Linked DNA regions of Homo sapiens: region 2 is linked to region 1. Evidence: fine-mapped expression QTL. A gene starts in region 1. The other region holds a variant in brackets. All regions are shown on one strand. Distances are from middle to middle.

Region 1 (5,376 bases):
AGATACTTTTTGGAAAGTTTTTACATAAGTTATATCACAATTAAAATGTTGAATTTCAAAAAAAAAAAGAGGCATTCGTTTGAGATTGCCTGGGGTCCTGTGGTTTGCTGAATAAGACTCAGTGTGGGGAACTGTAGACTCTTCCTGAGAAGCTCAATTCCAAAAGGAAAAGGAAAATGCCGACTGGGATTCCCTGACAGGCATTGGTTAGCTGCTGTCTCTGTCCACTGATAACTGGAGCTTTCAGAAAGGCATCCTCTGCAGCCCAGCATCAGCTTCTCCGCCTGCTGTTCCCTCCGGGAGGCGGCCCGCACCTCAGAAGCAGACACCGTTGTGCCTGGGTCCGGTGGCGTCTGGCCAACAGGGGCTGGATGGGGGGCAACAGCAGCAGGAGGAGGACAGAGGAGGTGTTTACTCAGGGTCTCCTGTTAGGGTGCTGTGGGGTGTTGGGTTTCTCTGCTGGAAGCTGCAGCTCTGGTCACCACCTTCTCAAACTATAGGGCTGCCCACCGGGCATGGTGGCTCACGCCTGCAATCCCAGCACTTTGGGAGGCCGAGGTGGGTGGATCACCTGAGGTCGGGAGTTCGAGACCAGCCTGACCAACCTGGAGAAACCCCATCTCTACTAAAAATACACAATTAGCCGTGTATGGTGACACATGCCTGTAATCCCAGCTACTCGGGAGGCTGAAGCAGGAGAATCGCTTGAACCCGGGAGGTGGAGCCTCCTCCCATCTGCCCCCTCCCTTGGGCTTTCTGGAGGGATGGACAAAGTACAGTATTAAGGCTACTGCTTCTCTCTGTGCAAACAGCCCTCTTCCCATTTTAGGAAGGGAGTTGTCTATGCTGGAGAGACCCCCATGAACCAAGGAGCAGCTCAAAGCGAGCTTCCATGTCCTTCCAGGGGTCTGCGGATCTTCTGCTACTCTTTTAGCATCTCTGCTCTCCTCCCCTTCCCAGGCTCTGATAGAACCCTGAGGGCCTCACTTCCCTTGCTCCTGGACTTGCAACTAGGAATACATTTAAAAAGTCTCCTCCAGAGGAGCACAATTCCAGCTAAGCCGTTTGTTGTTGCTGTGAGCCGAGATCACGCCATTGCACTCCAGCCTGGGCAACAAGACTGAAACTCCACCTCAAACAAAACAAAACAAAACAAAACAAAACAAAACAAAACAAAACACTATGGGGCTGCCCTCCAGGGCCATGGATAAGACTTCTTCCCCCTCTCTGCAGCCCTGAGGCTGGTGACCCCTGGTTTAGTGGACTAAACATTACTGCTTTTCCTAAACTCTGCCCCTATCTTGGTAAAATGTCCCTTCATCCTAAGGTCCTTAATGTCAGCTGTTCGCTGCAGCATCCTGACTAATGCACAGCTGAGAGGCAGTCAGAAGCCAGCAACAATGAGGGTGATTTTAAAAGACCATGACGAATGTGTACACAGAATACTCAGTGGCCCCAATCCCATACAGGTGCTGAAGGTGGGCTACGAACTGCACACTAAGGTTCTGTAGGGAAATGAATTAGGATTGGTGGTAGATTTTCCACTGAATCTTCTTGTAATACAGTTCTCTAAGTGCTTCCCTGTACCCACAGTTCTAAATGATCTTCAGTGGAGCGTATTTGTCTGTGTGTGTGCGTGGGTGCCTTAATACTTCTGGAAGCATCCTCTTAACCCACTGTTTTCATTTATACACATATCACCTGTTTCATGGCTAGGACTTGGTAGGATTAGACATACATGGGCCAAAGGTAACTTCAGTCAGACCCTGTTTAATTATAAAATGGCAGAGTAAAATAGATCTAATATGTCAAGGGACACACCTTAAAGCTTATCCAGCCTGAAGAACATTAATGGTAAGTAGAAACAAGCGAACAAAGAAAACCTTTTGAAGTGGCAACAGAGGGGAGGGGTGGGTGCTGGCTCCTACTGAGTTGAGGACAGAGCCATTCCTCTCACTGATGTGCTTCTTCCCTGGAGGTGAGTGTGGGGTGCATGTGGGTGTGCGTGGGGTGGATCCCATGCTGGTGCCAGGACTGCCAAAGTGTGCGTTGGTGGGAAAGAGAAGGAAGGGAGAGCAGGATCCAGTGTCCATTGTGCTGATTTTTTGTGGACACAGAAATGAGAAGGCAGAGAAGATGTCCAAGTCTTCTGTAGGAGAGCTCACCCTCTCCTGGGTAGTTAAGGTCAACCACACTGCATCCGGATCCTGCCAGGAACTTGGAACGCCCAGAGGGCTGGCAGCGACGCAGTGCTGGACATTCCCACCCCACCCGGGCTGCTGCGCTGGGGGCAGCCGGATCCACAGAGATGCAGAAGATGTTGTGGGAAGAGACCATGGGAGAGCCACAGAAGCAGAAGCGCCTCCCTCCCCACTCCCTGCACACCCACCCCCTAAGCTGGGAGCGCCCAACATGCAGCCAGAAAAAAAAAAATCGTTGAAGGCCGGTTCACATCTACTGCCTAGAGAGCAAATCCTCACTGATGTCAATTTCACGTATATGGAAGTGAATATATTCACTTCCTAGGCTGCTGAAACGAAGTGCCACAAACTGCCTGGCTGAAAATAACAGGAATTTGTGTCTCACCATTCTGGAGGCTGGAATTCTACGATCAAGGTGATGTCAAGGCCAGACTGTCTCTGAGGCTCGGGGTAGAAGCTGTCCTGCCTCTTCCCGGTTTCCGGTGGGGCCAGCGGTGCTCGCGGATGCTCCTGCAGGCTTGTACATGCGTCGTCACAACCTCCGCCTTCAGCCACACCCCGTGTTCTTCTTGTGTGTCTCGGTCTTCACGTGGCGTGCCTCTTTTTTATAAGGACAGTGGTTTTATTGGATGCGGGGCCCACCCCATTCCAATGTGACCTCGTTCTAATTAATTACATCTGCAAGGACCTTATTTCCAAATAAGGTGACATTCTGAGGTCCTGGGGGTTAGGACTTCAACATCATTTTTGGAGAAAACCATTCGACCTTTGACAATGCCCAAGTAAAACGGTTTCATTTTTAGCGAGTGGACGTTCGAGTTCTCTATTTGAGGCATTTTTCTCAAGGATTTCTAACAATAGCTCACGTTATAGGTTGCGTTTATTTTTCACCATAATGATTTTTAAAATGTCAAAGCCTTGGCCCAACGACATGGGTGAGTTTGTTTTTATTGTTAGAAAGGATTCTATGCTGCTTTCAAATGTCTGCAGGTTTATTTTTAGCTGGACAGGAAGTGCATCTTACGCTTATGTTGGTTTGTAGGCTGCCCCCTTTTTTGGAGGAATGTTATTGTTAGAAAACCACGTTCAGTTTGGAGATGAGTTTGGATTGAGCACCACGCAAATCTAAGTTATAATTATACTACTCTCCGCTATAGATTTTCCAAAATAATCTTTCTGTTCATCAGAATTTGAAACCTTTCAAATAATGGTTCCGTTTGTTATTCACAATTTCACAGCCCAGCAGCTGCCTTTTATTTGTCTTTAAATGAAAGGTCAAGAGGTTTTGATGTAACCTGGGGTTGAATTGAAGGTAGCATGTCCATGTAGTGAGATGTAAAGTGAAAAATAAAAAAAAAAAAACATAAAAATGCTATGTCGTGACCACAAGATACCAGAATCATTCTTATTTGTTATGACTAAACATCCAGTTATTTCAAAGGGAGGGAAATAGTTCAATCCAGAGCTTACCTAAATTTTTCATTGTTTCAGCAAAGGGGCTTGTGATTTGGGGGAAGTTTAGTTCTTAAGTAGAGGACCTTTCCATCAGACAAGCTGCTTGTATTTGTTGCTGGTGCCACGGATAAGCTAGTATTTCAGAAGAGAGCAAGGTAATCCCATCCTAATGCCGTAATGAGGGTCACAGTGAGGTACGGGAAACGGTGGGACTTTCCACCTAAAAATATCTGCCAGCAGTTATATTGTCAGTTGGCTGTGATCTCCACCTCCAGCAGTGAACCTTCGGGGAGGAGGTTCTTTGACCTTCCTTGGTGTGATTGCCTGGGGAAAGTGATCATTTCATGGAATCGTGTCTGTTTCTCCATCCTCTTCTTTGAGGGACTTCTGAATGAATAAGGTATCACTCTCACACCCCAAACCAACACTTTAACCCTCTGTTGAAATACTATTTAAAGGATGGTTGCATGAGGATGGATTCTATTTTTGCCTGTGACCAAACACAATGAGTCTTAAAAAATAGCCTAGATTTCTTTCTGCTTTGCCTTGAGTGATGATTACAAACACCCCAGCCTTCCACGTTGGTAAGGGCCACTCTCAGGTTCACTAGTATATCTGATGGTGACCACTTACTAAGGTGCCTCCTGTGAGCCGGGCACATATCATGTGTGTGGCACGTCCCATCTCATTTACTCCTTACAACAGCCAGATGAGCTACAACACCCAGATGGTGCTCCCTATATCGCCTTTACAGAGAGGTGACATGGTGGTATGGAGGTAGCCAGGAAAAACCGCGCGGAGGCTCCGACCATCCATCTCTTTGCTTTAGGCCTGGGATCACTTGCAGATGAACCATCTGCCCCCTCCCTTGGGCTTTCTGGAGGGATGGACAAAGTACAGTATTAAGGCTACGCTTCTCTCTGTGCAAACAGCCCTCTTCCCATTTTAGGAAGGAAGCTCTTTATGCTGGAGAGACCCCCATGAACTAAGGAGCAGCTCAAAGCGAGCTTCCATGTCCTTCCAGGGGTCTGTGGATCTTCTGCTACTGCTTTAGCATCTCTGCTCTCCTCCCCTTCCCAGGCTCTGATAGAACCCTGAGGGCCTCACTTCCCTTGCTTCTGGACTTGCAACTAGGAATACATTTAAAAAGTCTCCTCCAGAGGAGCACAATTCCAGCTAAGCCAATCATCCATTCGAACCTTCATGTCTTGGGTTATCGGTTTTCTACTGCAAGGGACGCACCTCGTTCCTTGGAGGGTTACATGGGGTTTGTTGATGGTGTAATCAATTGCCCATGTGATTTGGAAAGACAAACTCGGCGGGTTGAAGCAGGATGTATCCTTCCACATTTTAATTGCTCCCAAGAATGATCAGATAATTGCCTTCCTTTGAAGGATCCATGAGAATGTGCTGAAGTGTCCCAGCAAAACAAAAGAGAGTCTCTGAGCGGCTTCTATTCTTGTCTGGCTCTGTTGACAGCGATTGAATGCTCTGGGGAAGAGAAAAGGCTGGCAGGGAGCCTGGGCCCAGAGGAACGTGAGGAGAGCTGGGCCCCCTCCGAGAGACGTTAGTGTGCTGTGCTCATTAGAAGGAGAATGTGCCACTTGTACTGCCTTCTGCTTACTGCCCCTCCTCCAGGGAGGACTTGTTGAAGGCATGAGAAAATATGAAGCCCGACCCCAGGGCTGGCAGCTGCCGCTGCACCGGAGAGCCTGCCTCC
Region 2 (5,376 bases), 72 kb after region 1:
GAGTCAGGAACTAGGTCCACCCCAGAGAAATCTACAACTTCCCAAATAGTCTGAATATGCTTTGCAGAGAAGAAAAATCTACATCATTTTCAAAACTCCCTTTGGATAAAAGGTTCACATCTGGCAAAATGAAAGAACTGTGATGACTGTATCATTTTTAAGAGGGAACAATAATGTAAAATTTAAGGTAAGGGGGTAAAATAAATTGCCAGTAACTATGGCAGATATCTTCCTTCAGTAGTGAAGTGCCTTCAGTAGTGCCTTCAATAGTGTAGTTGTGAATCAAAGTGTTACAAATATTAGTCAATATTATAATGCAGACTATTAAAGGGGGCTTCCATTTGAGACGGAGTCTTACTCTGTCACCTAAGCTGGAGTGTAGCGGCTCAATCTCTGCTCACTGCAACCTCCACCTCCCGGGTTCAAGTGATTCTCATGCCTCAGCCCCCCGAGTAGCTGGGATTACAGGCACGTGCCACTATGCCTGGCTATTTTTTTTTTTTGTATTTTTGATAGAGACGAGGTTTCACCATGTTGGCCAGGCTGGTCTTGAACTCCTGGCCTCAAGCAATCCACCTGCCTCAGCCTCCCAAAGTTCTGGGATTACAGGCATGTGCCTGTAAGTATTATATTAATATTTATCTTTATATCCTAACTAATAGTAGTGGGTATCCCATTTAACAAGGGATTCTACTAAAAATATCATATTCAGTAGTCTCTTTTCACCCTTAATGACCTTTCAAGCCAAGACATTTCTCAAAATTCAGAGCTGTTAAAATATATCAGTATGTTAATATACTTTCAATATCTGTTTTATTGTTTTAATTTTTTAAAATTTTAAGTTAGTTTTTTATTACAAAAGTAATGTATGTATGCTTATGGACAAAGTTTCAAATGTTACTGAATGGCACAAAGTGAAAAGCAACATTTCTTTCTGAATCCCTGCCTTGTCCCTACAAGCTCACCACTCTGGACATTTTTTGGTGAGCATCCTTCCAGAAATGTTTACTCAAATGCTATTCTACTTCTGCAATTTGCTCCCTGCCTTCACGGAATATTACTTGGACCATTTTCCATGTCAGCAAATATATGTCTACCTCATTCTTTTAAAAGACCGTGTGCTGTTTGGGAGGACATTCTATAATAATTTTAACAGACATCTATTTGTGAACACTTAGCTTCCTTCCAACTGTTTTTCCAGCTTCAGGAAATTGCTGCAGGGAACATTGTACAACATATACCTGCAGCCTTGATCAAGTATTAAGTACATTTCTGGAAGTGGAATCACTAGTATAAGGGGGGCTTGCATTTTGAATCACTGATTGCTACTGTAAAAATGCCCTGCACGGAGGCTGTAGCCAATTCCACTCAAGTGAAAGGATGTTTGTTTATTCCTGGCCTCACTGAAAATTACCAAGCTCTTTATCTCGTTTTTTGTCTAGCAGGTAAAAACCTATGTCTTCTTTTTATTTAAAGTTCCTTTATAATTATATGTTAAATGTGTACATATTTTAATGTTTGTCTGTGTTTTTAAACTTTACTTATTTTTATGTAAGGTGATTTAAGTTTTTTTCTTCTGTCAATTTGTGAGTAGTATTTGCATAGTAAGGAAATTGGGTCTTGATATGTTTTCTATGTTGTAAATATTTTTAAGTGGATTTTTAATTTGTTTATGGTATTTTAAAAGCATGCATTAGTTTAATTTGTTTGATGTTTGCATAGTCATATATGCTAATCATGTTCTTCCTGACTTCTGGGAGATGATGTATTTTTAAAGCTACTTTGATTCTGTTCTCCCACTCTTTTCTCTTGCTATGTTGGTCATACTTTTTATTTGCAAGAGAAAGAAAAAAGGTTTTTGCTGATTTTTTCCTTCAATTCTTTATCTCATCAAGGACAATTTTAAGGGGTATCATAGCCCTGCCGTACGCCAGAGGGGTGCAGTGAACTAAGGCTTTGCGTGTGCTGAGGACAGGATTACTTTGTTGAGATCCTCGCATGCATATATGATCACAGCCCAGGAGGGCAGTACAGCCAGGCGGCAGGTGAGGGCAGCCCAGGGCTTGGGAGATTCCTACATTTCAGGATGGCTTTGGTGTCTGCAGGTCACATATAATTTAATGTTTTCAGTTACACTGTATCAACTTTAAAAATAATTCGGTGAGGGAAGGAACCTCGATCTTGGCATCCTGGGGTTCTGGGTTCTGACCTCTGTCCTGGCATCCCGAAGGGTCTGATGATGTTTGCTGGATGTGTGGCAGCTCCAGGGCTCGGCTGCCTCTTTTTGGTTATTTGGTTTCTTGTTCCTCCCAGTGACTGAAAACCCCTCCCTCCCTGGCTTTT[T/C]ATAGAAGCTAAGAAAAGAGCTTATTTTGTGACTGCATCCGGACCTTGAGTTCTTTGGCTCTTGTGTGAGTGGATGGTGACACCAGGCCAGCTGGGGATTCTTCCCAGGCTGGGCTCACAGGCTGGGGCTGGGCACACGGAGCAGCTGCGGGAAAAGGATCTGGACACCAGCCCCCCAGCGTGTCACCGGCAGGAAGGTGAGGTGGGAACAGAGTGACGTCCATGCATGTTCAGGTGAGGCCTTTGTCTTTTCTTTGCTTGCGCAGTGGGACTTCATGCTTTAACTTGCATCGGGTGACCAGAAAATGGCAGAGGAGCCCCACCCTGGGCAGTGATTTTAATATTACGATGACATTCAAATGAGGAGAAAGGCGTGAGGGTCAGGCTGCAGTCCCTCTGGTCTTCAGGCAGCTGGACCTGGTCAGGTCCTTATAGGGAATGCCAGAGTCCTGTTTCAGTGACCTCAGAAGGCATCACTCAAAGAGATAGATAGGTCCTTCCTTGTATGGTCAGGAATTCAGCCTGGTCAGCAGATTTAGGAGCACCTCCACCCCTTCCTGCTCCGTGACTCAGTCTACTTGTTAAGGGGTGCAAGTGGGGGAGGGAACGTGCCCGGATGTGTGAGGGCCATCAGGACCTGTGTTGCTTTGTCACATGTCTGCAGGACCCAGTCTCTTTCCTCTCCTGCCTCAATTTGACAGAAAATCAAGACACCTAAGAAATTTGGGATGAAATGTTGTTACGGAAAAAGTGAGGGATGACAGTCCATGAACATGACTTTAGGGACAATAAGGGGTCTAAAAATATCCGACGAAGAACAACATCTCATCCATTTGAAAAGTGAAAAGTGGAATCTTGTTTGAATTTGTATTTCTTTGATGACTGCCAAGGGTAAATATTCTTTCCTTCCTTCCTTTCTCCTTCCTTTCCTTCCTTTCCTTCCTTCCTTCCTTCTTTGAAACAGGGTCTCGCTCTGTTGCCCAGGCTGGAGTGCAGTGGTGCCATCATGACTCAATGCAGCCTTGACCTCCTGTGCTCAAGTGATCCTTCCAGCTCACCCTCCCCAGTAGCTGGGACTACAGGCGTACACCACCATGCCCAGCTACTTAAATTTTTTCTTTTTTTTTTTAGAGACAAGGTTTCCCTACGTTGCCCAGACTGGTCTTGAACTCCTAGCCTCAAGCAGTCCTTCTGCCTCAGCCTCCCAATGTGCTGGGATTACAGGCATGAGCCACTGCACTTGACCAAGGGTAAATATTTTCTGTACGTTAATTACCTTCTGTATTTTTTGCCATGAAACTTAAAACCAATCCCTTTAAAACTTGTTTATATGGATGCCTCCATAAGCAATTCTTTACGTGTATTTAATCAAGCACGGATCTAGGTGTTGCTGTGAAAGTATTCTACAGATGTGCTCAGTCTCTGCAATCAGTTAACTTGAAGTAAAGGAGATTACACTCTGTAATGTGGGTGGGCCTCACCCAGCCAGCCATAGGCCTTACTGTTAAAGACAGAGGTTTCCATAGAGGAAGACGTTCCACCTCAACATGGCAGCACTGGCTCCTGCCTCAGTTTCCAGCTGCTGACCTGCACCACTGATTTTGGATTCGGCCGCCGCACAATCGCATGGCAAATTTCTTAAAATTGTCCTCTCTCTCATCTCCTGTTGGTTCTGTTTTTCTGGAGAAACCTGACTGATACAGTAATGGACAAGATCAGCAGCTGCGTGGAGCCCTATGTCTGAGCTAGGGATGAGGCCTTCGGAATGTCCTTCAGTGTTGACACTAAAACACATCTGCTATTTCTCTCTCATATCATCATTATCAACCAGCAGATCGCCTTGCTCAGAAGAACACTCTAGCTCTGTCATTGTTTTATAAGCTCAAAGAACAAAGAGCTGCCAGTATCTTAACCCCTCCCAAATCTAAATTAAAGGCACCATTGGAAAAGAAAAATGACCTAGATAGAGAAGAAGGGCAAGTACAGTAATTCACAACACCTTGTGCAGAGGCGAACATCTATGCTGACACAGACAAGCTCCTGGAATGCCCCGTTGTGGTGAGACTGTGGTTTCCTCACTGAGCAGGGTTTTCATCTAAAGACTGCCCTGACCCAACAGAGCCTTGAAGCTGTTTGTTGTCTGCTGACTGTGGATCAGGCATCTTGCTGGGCGCTGCAGAGGGCACAACACAAGTAAGGCACATAGAGCTCACAGGCAATGCTTATTTTGGTAGAAACATGAGCAAAGGGTGTTTCTGCTTTATTTGTTTTGTTTTTGCAAGGATGAGAGAGGAATCCAACTAGGTGCATTTGTTCAGAATGCAGGCTAAGGGGGATTCGACAGTCACTATGAGACCAGGTAGGATGGGATAGGGATATGAAGTGGAAGGATGACAATGGAGTCAAATGGAAGGAATCGAATCTATTGCTTAGGCTCCTGTGGCTTCACAGTTTTCTTCAACTGTGTTGCCTACACACTTTATAATAAAATTAAAATTAAGATGATGGCAATCAAATAAGCAATTCACAAGGGCAGATCTTGTTCTGCTTCATTATCTGATTCACCTCTGAGGAGCTTCCTGAAAGCCTGAAAAAAAAGAAGAAAAAGGAAAACACAGTAAGTGACCAAACTTTTGTTTCCAGAAAGTAAGAAAATACTAATTAGGACCCATTTATGAGACACAACAGAGTACTGGTGCTGAAGTATCCCTCTCCACATCAACAAGTAGAAACTGAACAGAATGCATGAAGCACCTGTTTTCAGACACTGAGGACCACAGCCAAGGGTGGGATTCCTGGCGGGTGCGTGGGGTGTGCTCTGGGATTGCTGAGATGCTCTCTCTGGACTGTGGCATGAGCGGGTGGAGCCCATGTACAGCATGGTGGCCTCATGGAGTTGCGGACAGATGGTAGAGGTTGGGGTGTGTGAGGAGGTGGCAAGGTTTGCAGTGGGTGTCTGACAGGATCTGAAGAAATCTGCGGAGAGTCCCCTTGAGCCTCATGGAGAACAAAGAACACTTTGAGCAGAACGGA

Direction of the effects. Positions count from the first base shown, and alleles are read on the strand shown. Sizes are in standard deviations (SD) of each study's normalised expression.
For the expression in aorta of the gene that starts at base 2,857 in region 1, allele C in region 2 goes with a lower level than allele T (large effect, 1.1 SD a copy in GTEx).

The links.
Region 2: its variant is fine-mapped to the expression of LINC03082 in aorta (GTEx, PIP above 0.99). The same link has a PIP of 0.9 or more in coronary artery, lung, prostate, subcutaneous fat, tibial artery and tibial nerve.

The regions. Positions count from the first base shown.
Region 1 is chr13:110,126,617-110,131,992 of GRCh38, reverse strand. LINC03082 (long intergenic non-protein coding RNA 3082) reads left to right here and starts at 2,857. Exons shown (of 3, transcript NR_187462.1): 1 at 2,857-3,136. It overlaps LOC101927712 (a long non-coding RNA gene), which reads left to right. Exons shown (of 3, transcript XR_931726.3): 3 at 1-31. RefSeq lists enhancers at 4,279-5,086, 5,087-5,376.
Region 2 is chr13:110,054,327-110,059,702 of GRCh38, reverse strand. LINC03082 (long intergenic non-protein coding RNA 3082) reads left to right here. Exons shown (of 3, transcript NR_187462.1): 2 at 3,475-3,593. It overlaps LINC00396 (long intergenic non-protein coding RNA 396), which reads right to left. Exons shown (of 4, transcript NR_126387.1): 4 at 4,751-4,930. Among named protein-coding and RNA genes, the nearest start is that of LINC00396, 3.7 kb to the right of the region's middle. The variant T/C (reference allele first, on the strand shown) is at 2,344.